Regions from separate parts of the Homo sapiens genome. Here region 1 is linked to region 2. The links come from fine-mapping of genetic effects on gene expression. Tissue or cell type: sun-exposed skin. Region 2 holds a variant in brackets; the other region holds the start of a gene. All regions are shown on one strand. Distances are from middle to middle.

What was found. PIP is the estimated chance that this variant, and not a neighbour inherited with it, causes the effect. A credible set is the group of variants that fine-mapping cannot tell apart.
Region 1: it holds the start of SNX29-AS3, and the variant in region 2 is the best candidate, but not a certain one, in a credible set for the expression of SNX29-AS3 in sun-exposed skin (GTEx, PIP 0.74).

The regions. Positions count from the first base shown.
Region 1 is chr16:12,609,457-12,612,371 of GRCh38, reverse strand. It overlaps SNX29-AS3 (SNX29 antisense RNA 3), which reads left to right and starts at 1,230. Exons shown (of 4, transcript XR_007064988.1): 1 at 1,230-1,634.
Region 2 is chr16:12,566,213-12,569,127 of GRCh38, reverse strand. It overlaps SNX29 (sorting nexin 29), which reads right to left. Exons shown (of 21, transcript NM_032167.5): 21 at 1-622. The coding sequence ends at 499. SNX29-AS3 (SNX29 antisense RNA 3) reads left to right here. Exons shown (of 4, transcript XR_007064988.1): 2 at 829-968. Among named protein-coding and RNA genes, the nearest start is that of SNX29-AS3, 43 kb to the left of the region's middle. The variant C/T (reference allele first, on the strand shown) is at 1,508.

The sequences.
Region 1 (2,915 bases), 43 kb before region 2:
TCTGTTGTCCAGATTGGAGTACAATGGTGCAGTCTCAGCTCATTGCAACCTCTACCTCCCGGGTTCAAGCAATTCTCCTGCCTTAGCCTCCCAAGTAGCTGGGCGCACAGGCACGTGCCACCACCCCTGGCTAATTTTTGTATTTTTTAGTACAGACTGTTTGACCATGTTGTGTAGGCTAGTCTCAAACGCATGACCTCAAGTGATCCCCCCCACCTCAGCCTCACAAAGTGCTGGGATTACAGGCGTGAATCACCATGCCCGGCCCCTCATGATCTTTTTTATTCTCTATAAACAAGCATTGTACCTAGAGTGGATGCATTCCCCTTTCTTTTGGGAATGCCCTACTCTATGGCTAACAGTACTTAGGCTACTTCCTTAATAAACATACTTTTGCTTTGCACTGTGGACTTGCCCCTGAATTCTTTTGTGCACGAGATCCAAGAAGCCTCTCTTGGGGGTCTGGATCAGGACCCCTTGCCTGTAACATTGTTACCTCCCTTTTCGACCAAAGCAGCCTCATTTTTTTTATTGCATTGTGGTGTGGAGCCCCAAAACTAGTTGGCATCTCTGGACCCCTAAAGATCTAGGTAACACTTGGTGAATTTTTAAAATCTCCCTTTTCATGGGTTTTTAGAAATTCAAAGTACTCTCCAAGATTTTCCCAAATCCCAGGTGCTTCTACCATTATTGTTACATGAAAGGGTTCCTGATGCAGTCCCGAGAGAGATGGTTCTTGGATCTCCTGCAAGAAAGAAAGAAAGCACAAGTCTGTAAAGTGAAAGCAAGGTGATTAAGAAAATCAAGGAATAAAGAATGGCTACTCAATAGACAGAGCAGCCCTGAGGGCTGCTGGTTGCCTTTTTTTATGGCTATTTCTTGACATGCTAAACAAGGGGTGGATTATTCATACCTCCCCTCTTTAGACCATATAGGGTAACTTCCAGATGTTGCCATGGCATTTGTAAGCTGTCATGGCAGTGGTGGGAGTGTAGCAGTGAGGACGGTCAGAGGCCACTTTAAGCACCATCTTGGTTTTGGTGGGTTTTGGCCGGCTTCTTTACTGCAACCTGTTTTATCAGCAAACAGGTCGGCACAAGATACAGCTATCTCATCCTGTGACTAAGTGTCTTAAGCGTCTGGGAATGCAGCCCAATAGTTTCAGCCTCATTTTATCCAGCTCCTACCCAAGATGGAGTTGCTCTGGTTCAAATCCCTCTGACACCATTATGACATCTTCTCTAATTTTCATGCTTGTGTGAAATTATTTGGGCTGAAGTGGTCAGACAGCTTGGGCTACCTTGTCACCATATTGTGCTAGGTGGAGGCTACTGCCTCTAGAAGACTGTCTATTGTGCCTTGAATACACAGCATTGACTTTGCAGGGTCATCTTGCTGGATAACATAGCACCACCCAAACAGGAGAATTGAGGCTGAGACTGGATCAGGCCCAGTGGAACATAGCGAAATGAGAATAAGCTTTCGTGTTAGAATCCTGCCTATGTGATCTCCAGCAACTTAACATCTCTGAGCCACTTCATTTATCTGGAGAATGGGGCTAAATCTTCCTGAGTTTTTGAGGCTTACAGCGAATAATGTACGGCACCTGACATGCAGTAAACAAGAAATCAAAGGTAAATACCATTATTCAGTCTTCAGCACAGAATTTGTTCATTTTCTTACCATACCGCCCTTCCTCCCCCACTTTATAAAGAACAGAGACAGATCTCATTTTTTCAGATCTAACAGGTACCCCCATCCCCATGACTGGCTTTCAATAGATTGATCATAGTGTGCAGAGGTCAGCAAACTTTGGCCCACCTGTTTAGTAAATAAAGGTGAGTTGGAACACAGCCTTGTCCACGCATCAGTTGAATAGTTGGCAATGGGAATCTCATGATCTGCACCTAAAAATATTTGGCCCTTTACAGAAATACTTGGCCATCCCCTGGCTTATAGCCGGTTGTGTTTTGTTTCCCTGTGTCTCTTTCCCACCCCAGCTGGGATTCAGGCTAGCCTGTTTGTCTAATCAGATCTGAGGAAAGTGCATTCAGTTGATGAAATCGGCTAACAAGGGTTCATTGCTACGGGCTCATTGTGTTTGGAGATGGGGAATGTGCGTGGGTTGGTCAGAGCCTTAACCCACAGCCCTGCTCCCAGGAAGCTTTCTGACCACTTCTGTGGATAAACAAGGCACGCATAGCTGGGCACAGTAGCTCACACAACACCTGCACTTTGGGAGGCCGAGGCAAGAGGATGGCTTCAGCTCAGGAGTTTGATACCATCCTGGGAAACAAGGCAAAACCCTGTCTCCACTAAAAACACAAAAATTAATGGGGTGTGGCAATATGTGCCTGTAATCCCAACTACTTGGGAGGCTGAGGGAGGATGGCTTGAGCCCAGGAGGTAGGGGCTGGAGTGTACTATGATTGTGCCGTTGCACTGCAGCCTGTGTAACAGAGCAAGAACCTGTCTCAAAAATACAAACAAAATATAAAAAAGCCATGTGAGCCACAGGCCAGAACTTTAACCCAAACTTGTATACGGATTAGCTTCAACCTTTTAATCTATCTGGGCCTCAGTTCCCCCATCCATTAAATGGCAATAATTTTAAGTTTTACGGTACATGTGCATAACATGCAGGTTTGTTACATAAATACACATGTGCCATGTTGCTGTGCTGTACCCATTAACTTGCTTAACATTAGGTGTATCTCCTAATGTTATGCCTCCCCCTCCCTCCACCCCACAACAGGCCCCAGTGTGTGATGTTCCCCTTCCTGTGTCCATGTGTTCTCATTGTTCAACTCCCACCTATAAGTGAGAATATGCTGTGTTTGGTTTTTTGTCCTTGCCATAGTTTGCTGAGAATGATTGTTTCCAGCTTCATCCACATCCCTACAAAGGACATGAAC
Region 2 (2,915 bases):
CCCCCGCAAAGCCAGCCATCCCTAGGTTAGGCCAGGTAATAACCTTAAAAAGCAAAAGGAGAGGCTAATAGTCATTCTAGTCCCCACGTGGGAAAGAGTGGAGAGGCTGGCTCTGCATGAACCTTCCTATATAGGGGATCACCTTTGCCTCTCAACCATGGCGCACCCAGCCTGACCTGGTGCCCACCCTCCTGCCAGCCCTGAACTACAGAAAGGTGGAGGAACAGCCCTTGCAGCCCAGGGTAGACCCCAGAAGCAGAAGGACTGTGTGTCCCAGTCTCTCCAGCGAGGTGCTGCCTTGGTCTCTCGGGTCACGGTATCATGCGGCTCGAAGACTGATTAGTTTAATCGGGGTGTTGTGTAACTGTTGGGAATCGTGTGCTCTCAGGATCACCAGGTGGACGTGGTTGTCACGCTGAGGTGAGGGGCCAGCGGCAGTGGCTGGGGTGGACGCAGCTGGTGCCACGCACAGGGCCCGTGGCTGCGGTTTTGTCGAGGTCAGAGGTCACCGCTCTGGGGCTCCACGTTGCGGGTCTCCCGGGGCTGACCCCGGGACAGTTTGGGGAAGCGGGAAGCTGCTTTGGGCCGGCTGTTCACAGGCTCTCCGGGCGGGGTGATGTCGCTGAAAGAGCAGGGAGAGAATCGGGTTAAGTCTGGGGATGAAAAGCAAATGACCACAGGCCAGGAAGGGGAGCCAGGTGTGAGGGCAGGAGGGATCTGATTGGCAACTGTGACTGGCTCATTGGATCTGCCTCTAACTGGTGCCACCTGAAGAAATGAGAAACCCCTATTGTCACGTAAACCTTTCCATTTTTTTTTTTTTAACAGCACTCCGAGGCTCCAACCAAGCTTGGCTGTGAGTCTGAGCTAGCTCATGGTACCACCGTTCCGGTCTACATTTTAAGGCTATGAAAGAATGTTCTAGGCACAGCTTTCTTCCCCACATTTTCCTTGATTTTCCAGCAAAGGTACGCTTCTAAGTCCAAGGCAACTTTGGAGAACACTACATAAAGCCACACAAGATGCGTAGCAAAACACAGGAGACGGACTTCCTGTGGAATTAATCCTAAGAAAATAATCAGGCCCTAGGCTAGGGGCTAGTTAAAAGGTTGTTTGGCATGGTATTGTGTTTAAGAGCCAGGAACAGTGGAAGATAACACCAAGAGGGGGACACTGATCCTGGTTCTGAAGCAACGCGAACACACAGCGTGTGTGGGTCCCAGGGCATGGGTCTGGGTTGTGTGGGAGGCCCTCGGCACATTTTTTAGGGGATAGGGTAGAGGCTGGGAGGCTTCACCGTGAGAGCAGAGGGTGCTCAGCAGGAAGTCCTGTGATGTGGTTGCATTTTTTCAAAATTGTATTTTCTGGAGACAGTCTCGACTCTTGCCCAGGTTTTACAGTGCAATCGTGTAATGATAACTTGCTGCAGCCTCGATCTCCTGGGCTCAAGTGATCCTCTCACCTCAGCCTCCTGAGCAGCTGGGACTATAGGTACTAGCCACCATAC[C/T]TGAGTGTAATTTTTTGTAGAGATGGGGTCTTGCTCTTGTCCAGGCTGGTCTCAAGTGATCCTCTTGCTCAGCCTCCTAAAGTGCTGGGATTACAGGTGTGAGCCACTGTGCCTGGCCAATCCTTAATCACATCTGTAAAGTCCCTTTTGCTAGATAAGGGGACACATAAATTCTGGGGCTAGGAATGTTCTTACTCTGCCTACTATACGCTATTTGAATAGGAAGTAAATACCTCACTGGGATAAAATGTTTTAAAACAAGGCAAAAACCTAACAGGATCCATGTCCACTCCTGCGTCCGCAGCACCTCTGTGCTGCTGTGGCTTGCTGGATGTAAGTCCTGGATCCACTGGACCCTACAAGGGAAGACAGGACTGTGTCCACAGCTAGCTCTGCCTTATCTGTGGTTTAGAAAGGACCAAAGATGCCAAGTGAGAATGTCAGATCAGGAACATCCACCCCCAGCTGTATCCAAGCCCAGTTTCACAAATCATGTGAGTTAAGAGACTTGCATTCATAAAGAAATCATTCCCCTCGAGGATCCCTGCAGGGTTCCCTGAAACAGCCTAGCATCTTCATGTATCTCAGGAGTGAATCTCTTCACAATGATCTACTTTGCGTTGCACCTTTCCAGGGACATGGCCACTGTGCGAGTGAGATCCCTCGTTTCAAGTTTGACACCCTGATAAGCTAACAAAATGAAGACCCCTTTTAATGATTGTCTTTTCCTGTAAGTCAAGTTGTTGCTTTGCCTTCTGTGCATGGATGAAAAAGAAACATTTGACCTTGAACAAAGCCGGAGCTGCTCTGAATCATCTCTGAGCCCAACCAGCCTGGCGTGTGCTGTGCTTTCCTCCTTTAGGTGGGTGTCTGGCTGCAGGCCCAAAGCAAACATGATCCTCTCTTCAAAGGATGGGGGACCCCACTTACGAAGAGCCTCTTTATCCCTGAATGCTCCTTAGAGGATGGTTCAAAGATGCTGGAAGGAGGTCTTTGCTTGCAGTGTAGGGGAACTGATTCTTAGATACAGGAAGGCTTGGATGTAAAAGTCAGTTTAAAGCCATGCCCTCACAACCCCCTCCTGTCATGCTCTTCAGATGCGGGGTCTGAGCAGCCACTTAGCCTGCAACCACCATCATCATTCAGCACAGCCAGGATGAGCCCTGCCCTGCAATGACCAGAGCTTGGGGGGAGAGGCCCTGGAGGTAACAGGCTCTGAGAGTGCCTGGGAGAGGCCAGTGCCTTGTTGGTTGGGAGAGGAGAGGTAGCAGTCGGTGGGGTGACTGTTATGAAGGGGTAGGGAGAGGACATAGCTTGGAGGCACGTGTCTCTGTCCAGTCCTGCTGTGGGCAGTGCTGTCTGACCCTTGGTTTCCTTGTCTGTCATTTGGGGATGACAACCATAAGCA